Linked DNA regions of Homo sapiens. The protein of the gene in region 1 purifies or fractionates together with the protein of each later gene. This does not show direct contact. Each region holds a gene or a part of one and is shown on either strand. Other genes may lie near its edges.

The links. Proteins that work in one complex are often made in the same cells at the same time.
Region 2: the proteins of NEXN (region 1) and PTPN4 purify together in Homo sapiens (co-immunoprecipitation; one large-scale study listed by IntAct). This does not show direct contact.
Region 3: the proteins of NEXN (region 1) and CNN3 purify together in Homo sapiens (co-immunoprecipitation; one large-scale study listed by IntAct). This does not show direct contact.
Region 4: the proteins of NEXN (region 1) and CORO2B purify together in Homo sapiens (co-immunoprecipitation; one large-scale study listed by IntAct). This does not show direct contact.

The regions. Positions count from the first base shown.
Region 1 is NC_000001.11:77,891,624-77,895,123, reverse strand, and holds part of NEXN (nexilin), read right to left. Parts: intron 1-3,500. UniProt on the Homo sapiens protein: Involved in regulating cell migration through association with the actin cytoskeleton. Has an essential role in the maintenance of Z line and sarcomere integrity.
Region 2 is NC_000002.12:119,979,922-119,982,660, forward strand, and holds part of PTPN4 (tyrosine-protein phosphatase non-receptor type 4), read left to right. Parts: 3' UTR 1-2,739. UniProt on the Homo sapiens protein: Phosphatase that plays a role in immunity, learning, synaptic plasticity or cell homeostasis. Regulates neuronal cell homeostasis by protecting neurons against apoptosis.
Region 3 is NC_000001.11:94,924,311-94,928,593, forward strand, and holds the start of CNN3 (calponin-3), read right to left. Parts: upstream 2,801-4,283; 5' UTR 2,585-2,800; coding exon 2,528-2,584; intron 2,431-2,527; exon of another isoform or gene 2,050-2,430; intron 1,460-2,049; exon of another isoform or gene 1,323-1,459; intron 1,038-1,322; exon of another isoform or gene 1-1,037. UniProt on the Homo sapiens protein: Thin filament-associated protein that is implicated in the regulation and modulation of smooth muscle contraction. It is capable of binding to actin, calmodulin and tropomyosin. The interaction of calponin with actin inhibits the actomyosin Mg-ATPase activity.
Region 4 is NC_000015.10:68,721,993-68,725,149, reverse strand, and holds part of CORO2B (coronin-2B), read right to left. Parts: intron 1-3,157. UniProt on the Homo sapiens protein: May play a role in the reorganization of neuronal actin structure.

The sequences.
Region 1 (3,500 bases):
GCAGTGAGCTGAGATTGTGCCACTGCACTCCAGCCTAGGCAACAGAATGAGACTCCATCTCAAAAAAAAAAAAAAAAAAAAAAAAAAAAAAAAATTACACTATAGGCTGGCCATGGATGGTGGCTCACGCCTGTAATCCTAGCACTTTGGGAGGCTGAGGCAGGTGGATTGCCCGAGCTAAGGAGTTCGAGACCAGCCTGGCCAACATGGTGAAACTCCATCTCTACTAAAATACAAAAAATTAGCCAGGCATGGTGGTGTGCGCCTGTAGTCCCAGCTACTTGGTAGGCTGAGGCAGGAGAATTGCTAGAACCCGGGAGGTGGAGGTTGCAGTTAGCCGGGATCAGGCCACTGCACTCCAGCCTGGGCTACAGAGCAAGACTCCATCTCTAAAAAAAAGGAAAAAAAAGTATACTATAGGCTGGGTGCATTGGTTCATGCCTGTAATCCCAGCACTTTAGGAGGGTGAGGCCTGGGCAACATGGTAAAACCCCATCTCTACAAAAAACAGAAAAATTAGCCAGGTGTGGTGGTGCACACATGTAGTCCCAGCTACTCGGAAGGCTGAGGCGGGAGGACTGCTTGAAGCTGGGACATAGAGACTGCAGTGAACCCTGATCACGCCACTGCACTCTAGCCTGGGTGAAAGATCGAGACCCTGTCTCCAAAAAATAATAATAATGAAATAAAAATGATACTATAAAATGTCCAAAAAATAATAATGAAGTAAAAATGATACTATAAAACCTGTCATAAACCTCATTGCAATTCAAAAATATGAAATTAGATCCTATTTCACCTATACGAAGTAGTGATCTATTTCCCTCCTACCAATACACAATTCCTCACCGAAAACCAAGAATCTTATGCCAGGTGCAGTGGCTCACACCTGTAATCCTAGCACTTTGGGAGGCCGAGGCAGGTGGATCACCTGAGGTCAGGAGTTCGAGACCAGCCTGGCCAACATGGTGAAATCTCGTCTCTACTAAAAATACAAAAAGGCCAGGTGCGGTGGCGCATGCTTGTAACCCTAGCACTTTGGGAGGCCAACGTGGGCAGATCACGAGGTCAGGAGTTCGAGACCAGCCTGGCCAGCATGGTGAAACCCCATCTCTACTAAAAATACAAATTAGCCAGGCGTGGTGGCGAATGGCTATAATCCCAGCTACTCGGGAGGCTGAGGCAAGAGAATCACTTGAACCCAGGGGGTGGAGATTGCACTAAGACGAGATGGTGCCACTTCAGCCTGGGCAAAAGAGCAAAATTCTGTCTAAAAAAAAAAAAAGAAAGAAAGAAAATCAAGAATCTTTTGAATCTTTCAACCTGCCTTGATATCCTTCCGCAATAAGTATAAATAACACTTTGCCCTTATATGACAGTATGTGATACTTTTCGAAGTATATCCACCAAACTATGAGCCCCTGAAAGGTAAGAACTGCTCTATTCCTCTCTATAGTTTTAGTGTTTCGCACAACACCTAGGACATAGTACAAGCTCTATTCGTATTTGAGCTAGTGAATGAATGACAAAGAGATAACAGGAAAACTGTCTGATCCAAAATCATCCCAAATAAGACACATGATTCTTATCTACAAAAGGAAGACTGATGATCTAGATGCACTAACTAAAATAATAAAAAATAAAATGGGGTGAATTTATGCTAAACTAAATACCATGAACAACCAGAAACCTGAGGCTTCAGGAGTTCTGTTCCCAAGCAAATTGATGTGGTAATCACTGGAGTCTGGGCCTCCTCACCATCTCTGCAAGCGGAAGATGATCTTTCATTGAAGGACACAGCTGGGAATAGGAAGACCTGGATCTCTGGCTCCAAACATGTCAGTGGAATGGGGAGGCAAAAGAAAAACAGTAAACTCCTCTTTATAGCCAAGCTGTAGGAGTCACAAAAACTCTCCTAAACACTTCTCAAATGGACAGGGAGTAGAATTTTTAAGGAGGCCAGGCATAGTGGCTCACACCTGTAATCCCAGCACTTTGGGAGGCCGAGACAAGAGGATTGCTTGAGACCATGAGTTTGAGACAAGCCTAGGCAACATAGTGAGGCTCTATCTCTACAAAAAATTAAAAAATCAGCCAGGCATGGTGGTGCATGTCTGTAGTCCTAGCTACTCAGGAGGCTGAGGTAGGAGGATCACTTGAGCCCAGGAGATAGAGGCTGCAGTGAGCCAAGATCATGCCACTGCACTCTAGCCTGGGTGACAAAGCAAGACTCCGTCTCAAAAAAAAAAAAAAAAGATTATTTACAAGATCCTAGGAAATACTTCCTTAGCAGAAATATCTTCCCCATGCTTTCTAAAATCCCACCAGGGAAAGTATTTTATTTGTTTTGGTTAGCAATATATGGTCCCTTCCAGCTCTAATCGACACTAACAATTAGTGTCAATGAATGCTAATCTCTTCTCCCACTCCCATGATCACATTATTTAAGAGGTTTGCTAACCAAAATATATCTACAATGTTTAAAGTCCCAGTTCCTGTTGCTAAGTACAGCAGACTTTCCATCATATGATGCATCAGATATACTTGCCCTAATACTTAGATCGGGGACTGCATACTCAAGTATTCAGGGTCAGGTAATGTAAATGTAATGTAAGGTAATGTTATGTAATATAATTGACAGGTAATGTAAATGAGTGTATGACTTGTTTAAAACAATAGGGAATCTCAGAGACTATGTCAAATGCAGAGCATGTGACCTGCCTGTCTGTGGGGCAGCCACTATTTAGTTCCAGTATATTGTTCCTGTGCAAAAATGTTAACCTTTGGGTACAATGTACACTATTTGGGTGACAGGTACACTAAAAACCCAGACAGACTTCACCATTTTACAATTCATCCATGTAACCAAAAACCACTTGGTACCCCTAAAGCTACTGAAATAAAAATAATTTCTTTAAAAAAGTGAACCCAGATTTTGCCCAGATTTTCCAATTTTTAAGAGAGGACGTAAATCGATATTTTAATGTAAAATGTACCAATTTTTAAGTATGTCTGTGGCTAAAAGTGTCTTTTTTTTTTTTGACACAGAGCCTCACTCTGTTGCTTAGGCTGGAGTGCAGTGGTACAAGCACGGTGCACTGCAGCCTCAGCCTCCTGAGCTCAAGCAATCCTCCTGCCTCGGCCTCCCAGGTAGTTGGGACTACAGGCATGCACCACCACATCTGGCTAATTTTTAAATTTTTTGTAGAGATGGGGGTGGGTCTCACTATGTTGCCAGGCCTGGTCCTGAACTCCTGGGCTCAAGGGATCCTCTCGCCTCAGCCTCCCAAAGTGCTTGGATTACAGGCATGAGCCACCACACCCAGCCCCAAAAGTGTCTTTTTTGTTTTTGATTTTTTTTTTTTTTTTTTTTTTTACTTTTTTTCCACACTTGGTAATCAGGAAGTAAAAGGTGTCTTTTTGACTGTCGACTTTTTGACTGCCATAGCCTTAGTCTAAATGAATAGACAACACTGACAAAATGGAAAGGGTCAAAGGGG
Region 2 (2,739 bases), on another chromosome or scaffold:
AGGTGTTTTATTGAGCATCTGATTTGTGTCAGCACCATGTAAATATGATGAGGAGTATTTGGAATAGACTTTACATTCACCAGAAAATTGATAGTATTTGTTAAACCAATGCATCCATTCAAAATAGAGGCAGAGTAAACAGCCTAAGAAATGATTTCCTTTCTACAGTCTGCTAGGAGAAAGAGGTGAGAGGGGAGTGGTTGATGATTTTAATCAAGAGTAAAGGGAACATTTATTACATGAAATCTGACTTCAGTTGTGCAAAGGTATGTTAAGACATTAAGACAATTGCTGGAAGGTTTCAAATATGTGTACACACACATAGAGCTACTTTTGTGTGTTTATTTATATGTATATTTCACAAAGGCTAATGCCCACAGAGGAAAATGATTATTTTAACTTCTGGGTTATCATCTGCTGGCAGGGTCTGATCAGGTCTAGAGTATTTAAGGAAAAGTCTCCTGTCTTCTATCTCCACTAGAAGTACTGCAGCTTGAGAGCTGAAAGGAACTTGAAAAATGTTATCCAGTCTTCACTTAGCCCATTTTTATCGGCATTAGGAAATAGGGTTCAGCAATGGTTATTGATTTAGCAGTCTGGTCTTATATGATCTGCTTTCTAATTATCTATCTAGTATTCCTATATTATACTGGAACTTCAATAAATTATAACCTATGTGAATATCATAAATTCTTGTGAATTTTTGTCTATTTCCAGTAGAGAAGCATACTCAGCCAATGTTTTCACTTAATAACTATGACAACCTTAAAGGATGTCACTTAAGTTAGAAAATAAGCAGGCTTAAGAAGTGATTCTAATTAGGACCCCCACTCAGTTTGCTAGTCATGCCTGCCTGACAGAACATAAGCTTTTGTAAAGTATTTAGACTGATAACACATGCAGTATGAAAACATTATAGACTGCAGTTAGAAGACTAATTTTTTAAAAGCACTCAAAACATAGAACTAAGATTTAGAATATATGTCCATTTATAATGAAATAATTTGTGTTCATAATGTGAACATGTAAGATAAGTAAATAAAGCATTACTTGTTTTATAATATCAGGAAGAGAGAAGGAAACATTAGTTTATAACAATGTGCTATTTAATATCTGTATTTTGAACATTTAAAATACTCTGATGGTAAGGTTGCCAAAGTAATTTTGAATTCATAAAAATTGTTTATACCACAATAATGTGGGATATGTTTACAGGCTCTTTTATTTTGTGGTAGTTACTTTATAGTTCAGATGAATTTGCATTTCAGTCACTTATAGTAAATAAAGTATATTAAATATTTGTTGGAATAAAAATCTCAATGTAATAGGACATAGATAAATTATGCAACAGCCTGCTTTGATGAAAGCTGGTGCATTATGTGAGCTGCCACAGTTAATACTTTGTATTAACATTGCTTACTTCCCCCATTTGCTTCACCTATCTGACTACAATTGCTGGAATCATTCTTTTTGTGGTGCTTCCTCCAAGTGAAATAACTATGTTATTAAAACCTACTGGATTAATTTTATCAAATATCAGACTTACTGATCTCTTGGCAGAGATTTATTGGTGTCTCAGTGTGATCACAATACAAGTTGTAGCAACCATTTTATAAAACTCTTAGAGAATTATGTAGATAAAATGGAAATTACATAATCCTAAAACATTTTTGAGGGCTAATTGATAATAATTTCAGCAATTTTATTAAGAACCCAGTAAATTAATCCCTAATTTGTATGTTTTTTGTTCAACTTACCGTGTCTGCAACCATTATATAGACTTCATTGATACTCAGCAATTACTACAGTGTGTCTTACAATGTTATAAAAAACAAACAGCAATCTCTGTTTCTGCCAGAAGTTAGATATTTTTTTATAGTCCTGATGAATTTGTTGTGAGTAGACACCACATAGTTATTTCTGTTTGCATATAAATTTGCTGCTATTTATTTGTATGTTTTTCTACTGTAGTATGCTATTGATTTCTGAAGTTATAATCATAATTTTTATTTTAGTAATCCAAGCTAAATGGGCAACCAGAAGTAATATCTGCTAGGGTGCAATCCATCAGCATTGGTTCAGTGCATATACATAAGTAAACCAGTTTAAAAAAATTTTACTAAGCAAAAGGTAGTAGCAATATTGCTAGTTAAAGATTACCATTTTAGGGGAAAGTTCAAAGGTTTAACTTCCTGAAACCTTTTAAACTTTTCAGTGCAAGAATGAAAATGTTTGAAAGCCTTGTTAAGCTCATAAAAGTTTCATTTAAACACTGTAGAGTTTCCTACCTTTGTTGTGTAAAGGATATAGAAAATATTTTTCTATGGACAGAAGGTTGAAACTGTTAACTTCTTTAATTTCATTGTTTAAAGGAGATAAAATGTTATTTGTGTGTCTTTCATGCTGTAAAGAAAATGAATGTATCTTTCAAATGTCATTAGAATTATGGCTTGATTCTAAGGATACTCTATTTGTTTTAAAGTCTACACGGGATTGAAAAGAAAGGGAAGAGTATTACACTTCATTGTACAAAATGTAATTTTAGAAGAAAAACATTTTCATTATAAACAAGAGCAATCATTGAAGCATTTTCAGATATAATGTACATTCTTTTTCATTTTGCTTTGCCTCTAGAATAGAAACTTTTCAGAAAATTTGCACATACTGTTTGTAAGTATAAAATAATTGAATTCTAGACTTTTGGAGTGTGGAAGGGTGTTTGTGTGTGAAGGTAATAAA
Region 3 (4,283 bases), about 17 Mb from region 1:
ACAGGTGGGTAGCAAAAATGGGAGGAAGGGCTGGGCGCCATGGCTCACGCCTGTAATCCCAGCATTTTGGAAGGCCAAGGCAGGGGGAATCACCTGAGGTCAGGAGTTGGAGACCAGCCTGGCCAACATGGCAAAACCCTGTCTCTACTAAATAATACAAACATTAGCCGGGCATGGTGGCAGGCACCTGTAATCCCAGCTACTCGGGGCGCTGAGGCAGGAGAATCACTTGAACCTGGGAGGCGAAGGTTGCAGTGAGCTGAGATCGCGCCACTGCACTCCAGCCTGGGCGACAGAGCAAGACTCCGTCTCAAAAAAGAAAGAAAAAAAAATGGGGGGAAGGCGACAGACAGCAGAGTTTGTGTAGAACATCCCTAAGTACTTCACTCAACTAAGACATCGCTTTTAGAGTTAAAATTCTTAGAATAGTCCAACTTCTGTGACCTTGAGCAAATCTTTCTGAGCTTCAGTGTACTGATCTGTAAATGATGTTGGATAATCCCAGCAATCCTCCTCACCTTACAGGACTGCTCTGCTGTTAAGATCAAAAGACTTCCTATGAAAGAATACTGTCTGAAAGGACTACAAAAATGAAACGGGTTATTAAAAAATGGGTTTGGTGCTTAAAGGGATAAATCCACAGCTTTCATAACTAACTTTCCAAAGGTTCTAAAAACTGAGGTTTTACCGTTTTTAAATATTTACAATAATTACAGTGATCTAGCCTGTGTATGCATTTCCTTGGATCTGCTCAGTATTAAGCAGGAAAAGGGCAAAAGCTGCTACATTAGTCAGCAAAAAAGAAATTAGCATGGATATTATTAACATCCAAGAAAAGTAAGTCACTTGAAGGGCTGCCAACGTTATCAGTACCTCATTTACAATGCAAAAGGTAGTAGAGACTCAACTGCTGCCAGCCAAGAATCACTGGGGGGAATTACAATGAATGTGCACAACCAGGCCAAAGTATCACATCACATCCAACATTTTGGACATGCCCATTCCTCTGAAGTTTCCTAAAGTTCGGTTTGTAAATCCTGGAAGGAAGGAAACAGTAACTTGTTACAAACTTTTCAGTTGGTGAGGTTTGCACTCAATCATACACAAACCATTCACCTTTCTGCTCTCTAAAAAAATTGTTAGCAAACTGTTGTCTAATACGGGCAACACGTTTGAAAAGGTAAAGGACCTAAACATTTCAACTTTAGATACATAGACTAAAATCAACTCCTTGCTTCAAAGACAGTATGATGTGCAGACTAACAGCGGGAGACAAGAGCCACAACTCTCCCTTGGGGTTTGACAACGGTGCGCTTCATTACCTCTTTACATAATTCGCTTCACACCGCCTACCCCCGCAGCCCCGGGATGTTCCAGCTCTGACAATGCCAGTGCCTTCCACCAGCGGTCGGACGGTGCGGTGGCAATCCTGACATGCTTGGGCTCCCGGGAGGTTAATGGGAATTAAACCACAGGCAGCCCTCCTTTGTGGCGCTTTGGCCAGAACAGCAGAAAGGAGACAATGAGCGTTCTGTGCACAGTTCCGCGCCGATTGGCTGGTCTCTCCCCCCAGAAACCCCTGATGTCATGGGCTTGGAATGCAGGGAGGGAGGAAGGAAGGAGAGGATTTGGGGAGGGGGACGCCTCTCATCTCTTTCCCAGGCCAAAAGTCCTAAAGATAAACCTAACGCATTCTTGGGCTCAGTGGCAAAGCTGAGCGTCACCAAATCCCAATCGCTCCAAACTATAAGCCGCCTCAGCAAACAAGCCCCAAACAAAAGCAACCCACAAAAATAATCCTTTATGTCGTGAAAGTCTAATGTACTTCAAACTTCTCAGTGTTTCATAAAAAGTCTCAAGCCTAAGCAGATATCACTCGCACAGTGGCGCGCTCAGGCTTTGTCTCCATTTCCCGCAAAAGCAACAGCAGAAGCAGCAGCAGCAATCTGCCTCCAAATGCCTCCCAGGCACCGAGATCGGAGACTGTGATGGGTCCCGGACCGGCTTCCGTTCCTCGGGGCCCCTGGGGTCGGCGGGACATTAGGCGGTCTCTCTCCCCGTGGGGAGGCGCGGAGTCCGCCAGCACCCGGGGCCCGGGCAGATGGCGGGGGCTGCGGCAGCGGCTCGCCGGGTCCCTGGCCGCGCAGACGGGCTCCGCCTAAGGGCGAGTGGCCACGCAGGAGCGCCCCCTTCCCGGAGGGCGCGTTCTGCAGTCACCAAACGGCCCCCGAGACCCCCGCAGCCGGAAAGGCTGGCGCCGCGGGACTCCAGGCGCCCGGGAACCCACCGCCAGCCACTAGTCCTGTCCCACGGCGCGGGAACAAAGCCAGGCGGGTGCCCGGGAGCCGGCCCCGCAAGCCCGGGGACTGGACGCGACCGGGACAGGCAGAGACGCTCGCGCCGCCTCGACGGCCCCTCTCCAGGAAAACGGTGAGCCACAGCGCGAAGAGCAAACGAAGCACGGCCCAGCGCCAGGCCAGCCCAAGGGTGCCCCGGGGGCCCCCGCGCCCGCCCGAGCCAGGCGTACCTTGTTCTTGACTTCGGCCGAGAGCCCATAGGAAGGGCCCTTGTTGAAGTGGGTCATGGTGGTTCGGGCGGCGGGAAGAGACAGCGCTGGGGTCCGGGGTCTCTCGCACTTCGCTTCCCCGCTCCTGGCCCCGAGGAGTGGCCGCCGCGGGGGATGCTCGAACTCCCTCCTCTGGGAGGCGCAGGAGACGGCCGCGGGGCGCGGGCGGTGCCTGGGCGACTGGGTCCAACTGGGTGCTACAGAGCCTCGAGCTCCGCTGCGAAGCACCCGGCTGCCTCGCTCGCCGCCCGCACCTCGGTTCCCCACAGGCCGCCCCCGCCTCCGCCTGGGCCTTCGAGGATTGGCCGCCGGGCCCGACCAATGGAGGGCCGCCTCCTCCCGCCTCTGCGCCGAGGGGCGGTGCGGCCAATTGAAGGGCCGCGGGGGCCGCTTTCCCTCCCGCTCCCTCCCCGCGAGGTCCCCGGCCCCCGCCCCAGCCCTCACGCCACCGGGGCCGGCGGCTAGGCGGCCCCGCCCCCGGGCTAGGCAGGGCGCCTGGGGGCTTCCCAGCCACAGGCCATTCACGTCAACCTCCAGGCATCCTCCGCGGCGGGCCGGACCGGGCCGGCGGAGGGGAGCGGAAGCCCACCGGGGCTGGCCCGCCGCTGACCCGCCGCCTCCGTCTGCCTCCTCCCGGGCTCTGGGCCCAGCGCGCCCAGATGCCGGGCAGGACCCCTCCGCCCGCTGCTGGAACACCAATAGCAGCGTTGGAGCCTCTGGGCCGGAGGAACTGGGGCCTCCACCGACACCTGCTTCTTCCCTCACCTCGCAGCCTTCCACACCTGTTGATCTGACCTCTGCCCCGCTGCCGCCCAGGAGTAACCTAAGGCTTTTGGCCTGATTCGAGCTCACTCCGTCTAAACCTCTAAATGCGGTGCGAAAAAATCCTGGGGAATGTGCCATGCAAAGCCTGGGCATTTCAAGTGCTTTTCTGGATTCGCATCAACTCCTCTTTACAGGCATCTTTATCCGGAATTCAGCTCGTCCCAAACCCCACGTGGTGTAGCTCTGCTTGTGTTTTTGAATCCCGGGGCCTCTTTGAATCAGAAGCCCTTTGTATAGAGATAAGTATCCTTTAGGCCAGAATCAGCCTCCATTTTTTTCGCAGTCCCATTTCCTACCCGTAATACTTTCTTCTGATTTTAAAGCCATTTGATAGAGAAGGGACAGGGAACAGAACCTTCGCCCCCCGCCTGAGCAGCTGGTAGACTAGATATCTTCCAAACATTATCTCATTTACTTCCCTGGAGTTACAAATAGGTAGATTTCATGTCCGTTGAGGGGTGAGAAAGCTGAAACTTTGAGACTTAAGAATCCTGGCCGAGGTCAGCCTCCTCCGAAGCTTCATCTCTTGCCACCACTTTCTGGTGCACACCTAGGACAGATTTCAATCCCTGAGATCCCAGGATGAAACCTATGTTTGCCAAATACCAGCTACTGTGCCAGAAGAGATCATGGAACCAGGTGTGGAAAGCTGCTTGAGAAGAGGAGCCAAAACATCATAGTTGAACCGTCCTGGAATAGAAGTGAGTAAGGTGAACCAGGTGTGGTGGCTCATGCCTGTAATCCTAGCACTTTGGGAGACCGAGGTGGGAGGATTGCTTGAGGCCTGGAGTTCAGGAACATCCTGGGCAACATAGCAAGATCCTGTCTCTACAAAAAATCCAAAGTTTTTTTAAATTAAAAAAAAAAAGTGAGTAAGGCAGCTTGAACCGGA
Region 4 (3,157 bases), on another chromosome or scaffold:
AGATCCACCCACCTCAGCCTCCCAAAGTGCTGGGATTACAGGTGTAAGCTACCATGCCCGGCTTGTGCTGATAATTTAGAACTTTCTAAAATGCTTTGTATCCTTCTCTTCTTAAGGAGGCTCAGGATACAGAATGGAATCTAGCTTTTTCCCTACTGATGAGGAACTATGACAAGAATACCAAAGTTTGCACTGGTCAGGGATTCATGTACAGCTATCCTGGCAGATCTTCACCCCAATGACTCTCTAGCTTAACCCGCCTCCATTTCTCCTGTAAAGCATATTGACAGATGTCCACAAAACGCCGAGCCCTGGAAGGCAGCAGGCTCCTTGAGGCTCCTGCACACCTGAGTTGAATGTTACCCACAGTCAATTGTGTTTGGTCTCAAACTTTCTGGTGTGAATTACATTTGTTATTGTAATTGCATAATTTAATGAAATATAATATAAATTGATGAAATGAGCACAAAAAGAGAGTTGTTGTTTCTATAAAAACTTAATTAAATGCTTTAGAAAATCTTGATAAAGATGATGCTAAAAAAACTGTGGCCGAATTGGGTGTGGAAGATCTAGCCCTAAAAGACTGGAGAATATTCTATATCTTGGCTGATGGTGGCTGCATGACTGTGTGTGTTTGTCAAAACTCTTAAACCGACACACTACAGAGGATGAATTTTACCATAGGCAAATTATACCTCAATGTCTCAAAAAAAGATGAGAGAAAACATTGTAAAAACTAGGACTTTGCTTTCAGATGAACTTTAAATTATTTTTCTACCTAAAAGAAATGGAAACTGGAAATGGGAGTTAAGGTGTGATTTGTGTGAAAGACATGGCAGATTCCAACCAGGGAGGGCCTCCTTGAAGAAAAGGTCCTGGTCCTGCATCAAAATATGCTAAATGAATGTATATGTTTTATTTTTATTATTTATTTATTTGTTTGTTTTTGAGACAGAGTCTTGCTCTGTCACCCAGACTGGAGTGCAGTGGCGCGATCTTGGCTCACTGCAACCTCCGCTTCCCGGGTTCAAGGTATTCTTCTGCTTCAGCCTCTGGAGTAGCTGGGATTACAGGTGTGTGCCATCACGCCCGGCTAATTTTTGTATTTTTAGTAGAGACGGGGTTTCACCATGTTGGCCAGGCTGGTCTTGAACTCCTGGCCTCAAGTGATCCACCCTCAGCCTCCCAAGGTGCTGGGATTGCAGGTGTGAGCCACCACCCCGGCCTACTTTTATTTTTTAGGGATAGAGTCTTGCCATGTTGCCCAGGCTGGACTCAAACTCCTGGGCTCAAGCGATCTTCCCACCTGAGCCTCCTGAGTAGCTGGGACTAGAGGGGTGCCACTACACCTCGCATGTTTTATGTTTAAAACAAAAATAAATGGTTTAAAGAAGGTATCGGCCGGGCACGGTGGCTCACGCCTGTAATCCAGTACTTTAGGAGGCCAAGGTGGGTGGATCACGAGGTCAGGAGTTCAAGATCAGTCTGGCCAAGATGGTGAAACCCCATCTCTACTAAAAATATAAAAATTAGCCAGGTGTGGTGGCAGGTGCCTGTAATCCCAGCTACTCGGGAGGCTGAAGCAAAGAATTGCTTGAACCCGGGAGGTGGAGGTTGCAGTGAGCCGAGATCATGCCACTGCACTCCAGCCTGGGAGACAAAGTGAGACTCCATCTCAAAACAAAACAAAACAAAACAACAACAACAAAGAAACCAAATGTATCTATTGGCTGGGCGCCGTGGCTCACACCTGTAAGCCCAACACTTTGGGAGGCTGAGGCAGGTGGATCACCTGAGGTCAGGAGTTCAAGACCAGCCTGGCCAACATGGTGAAACCCTGTCTCTACTAAAAATGCAAAAATTAACCAGGCATGGTGGTGGGTACCTGTAGTCCCAGCTACTTGGGAGGCTAAGGCAGGAGAATTGCTTGAACCCGGGAGGTGGAGGTTGCAGTGAGTCAAGATTGTGCCATTGTACCCCAGCCTGGGTGACAGAGCAAGACTCTGTCTAAAAAAAAAAAAAAAAAAAAAAAAGAATGTATGTATCATTTTTATGATTCTCTCCTTTTGTTTTTGTTTTTTTGAGACGGAGTTTCACTCTTGTTGCCCAGGCTGGAGTGCAATGGTGCAATATCCGCTCACTGCAACCTCTGCCTCCTGGGTTCAAGTGATTCTCCTGCCTCAGCCTCCCGAGTAGCTGGGATTACAGGCGTGCGCCACCACACCTGGCTAATTTTGTATTTTTAGTAGAGACAGGGTTTCACCATGTTGGTCAGGCTGGTCTTGAACTCTTAACCTCAGGCAATCCTCCCGCCTCAGCCTCCCAAAGTGCTGGGATTATAGGCGTGAGCCACCGTGCCCAGCCATGATTGCCTCCTTTAACTAACTTAAAAAAATATAACTTAAAAAAATATTTTTTGTTAACTAACAAACCACCAGTCCCAGTTACATCTGTTGAGAGGGATGACGTGCTATTTGCCTTTGCACTAAATGACTCTACACACTCTTGCGTCTTCCAAGTTCTCAAAATTTCTTTGCATTGTTTTTTGGTCCACTTTTGTCAAAAAAACCGCTTTAGTGAGGTGTAATTCACACACCATAAAAGTCACTCATTTTAAGCTTACAATTCAGCGATTTTTAGTAAAGTTCCTGAGTTGTACAATCGTAGGACTTTTCCCTCGCATCAAGCTGTCAGTTGTTTCCTCACACTTAGATCAATGCGTCCACCTTTGACAGCCCCACTTTCTAACTGGCTGCTTCCGAACTGCTACGATGATTAAAACTGTGGATAAAGGCAGAGTCAGCAGGCTTTGAGAAAGCTTCTTCCCAGCGAGGAAGATGCACAACTTTGGTGTAGATTGTGGCATCTGTTTTGTCTGCTCTGAGACCCTTTAAGCTTTTCCTCCAGGTTCTCAATTCTGATTCCATAGGCAAGTCTACAGCGAAATATTGCTTGATTTAACTACTATTCAACCCTGCCTTCTCCAGACCCAGTGCCAGAACTGAGCTCAGGCCCTTGTTATTGCCCTCCTGGGCTATCACAATGACCCCTGTGTCTCTATCTTCAAAGAGTAGAGTTCTTTTAAAAACAAGAAAATAGCTGGGCGCAGTGTCTCATGACTGTAATCCCAGCACATTGGGAGGCGAAAGTGGGAGGA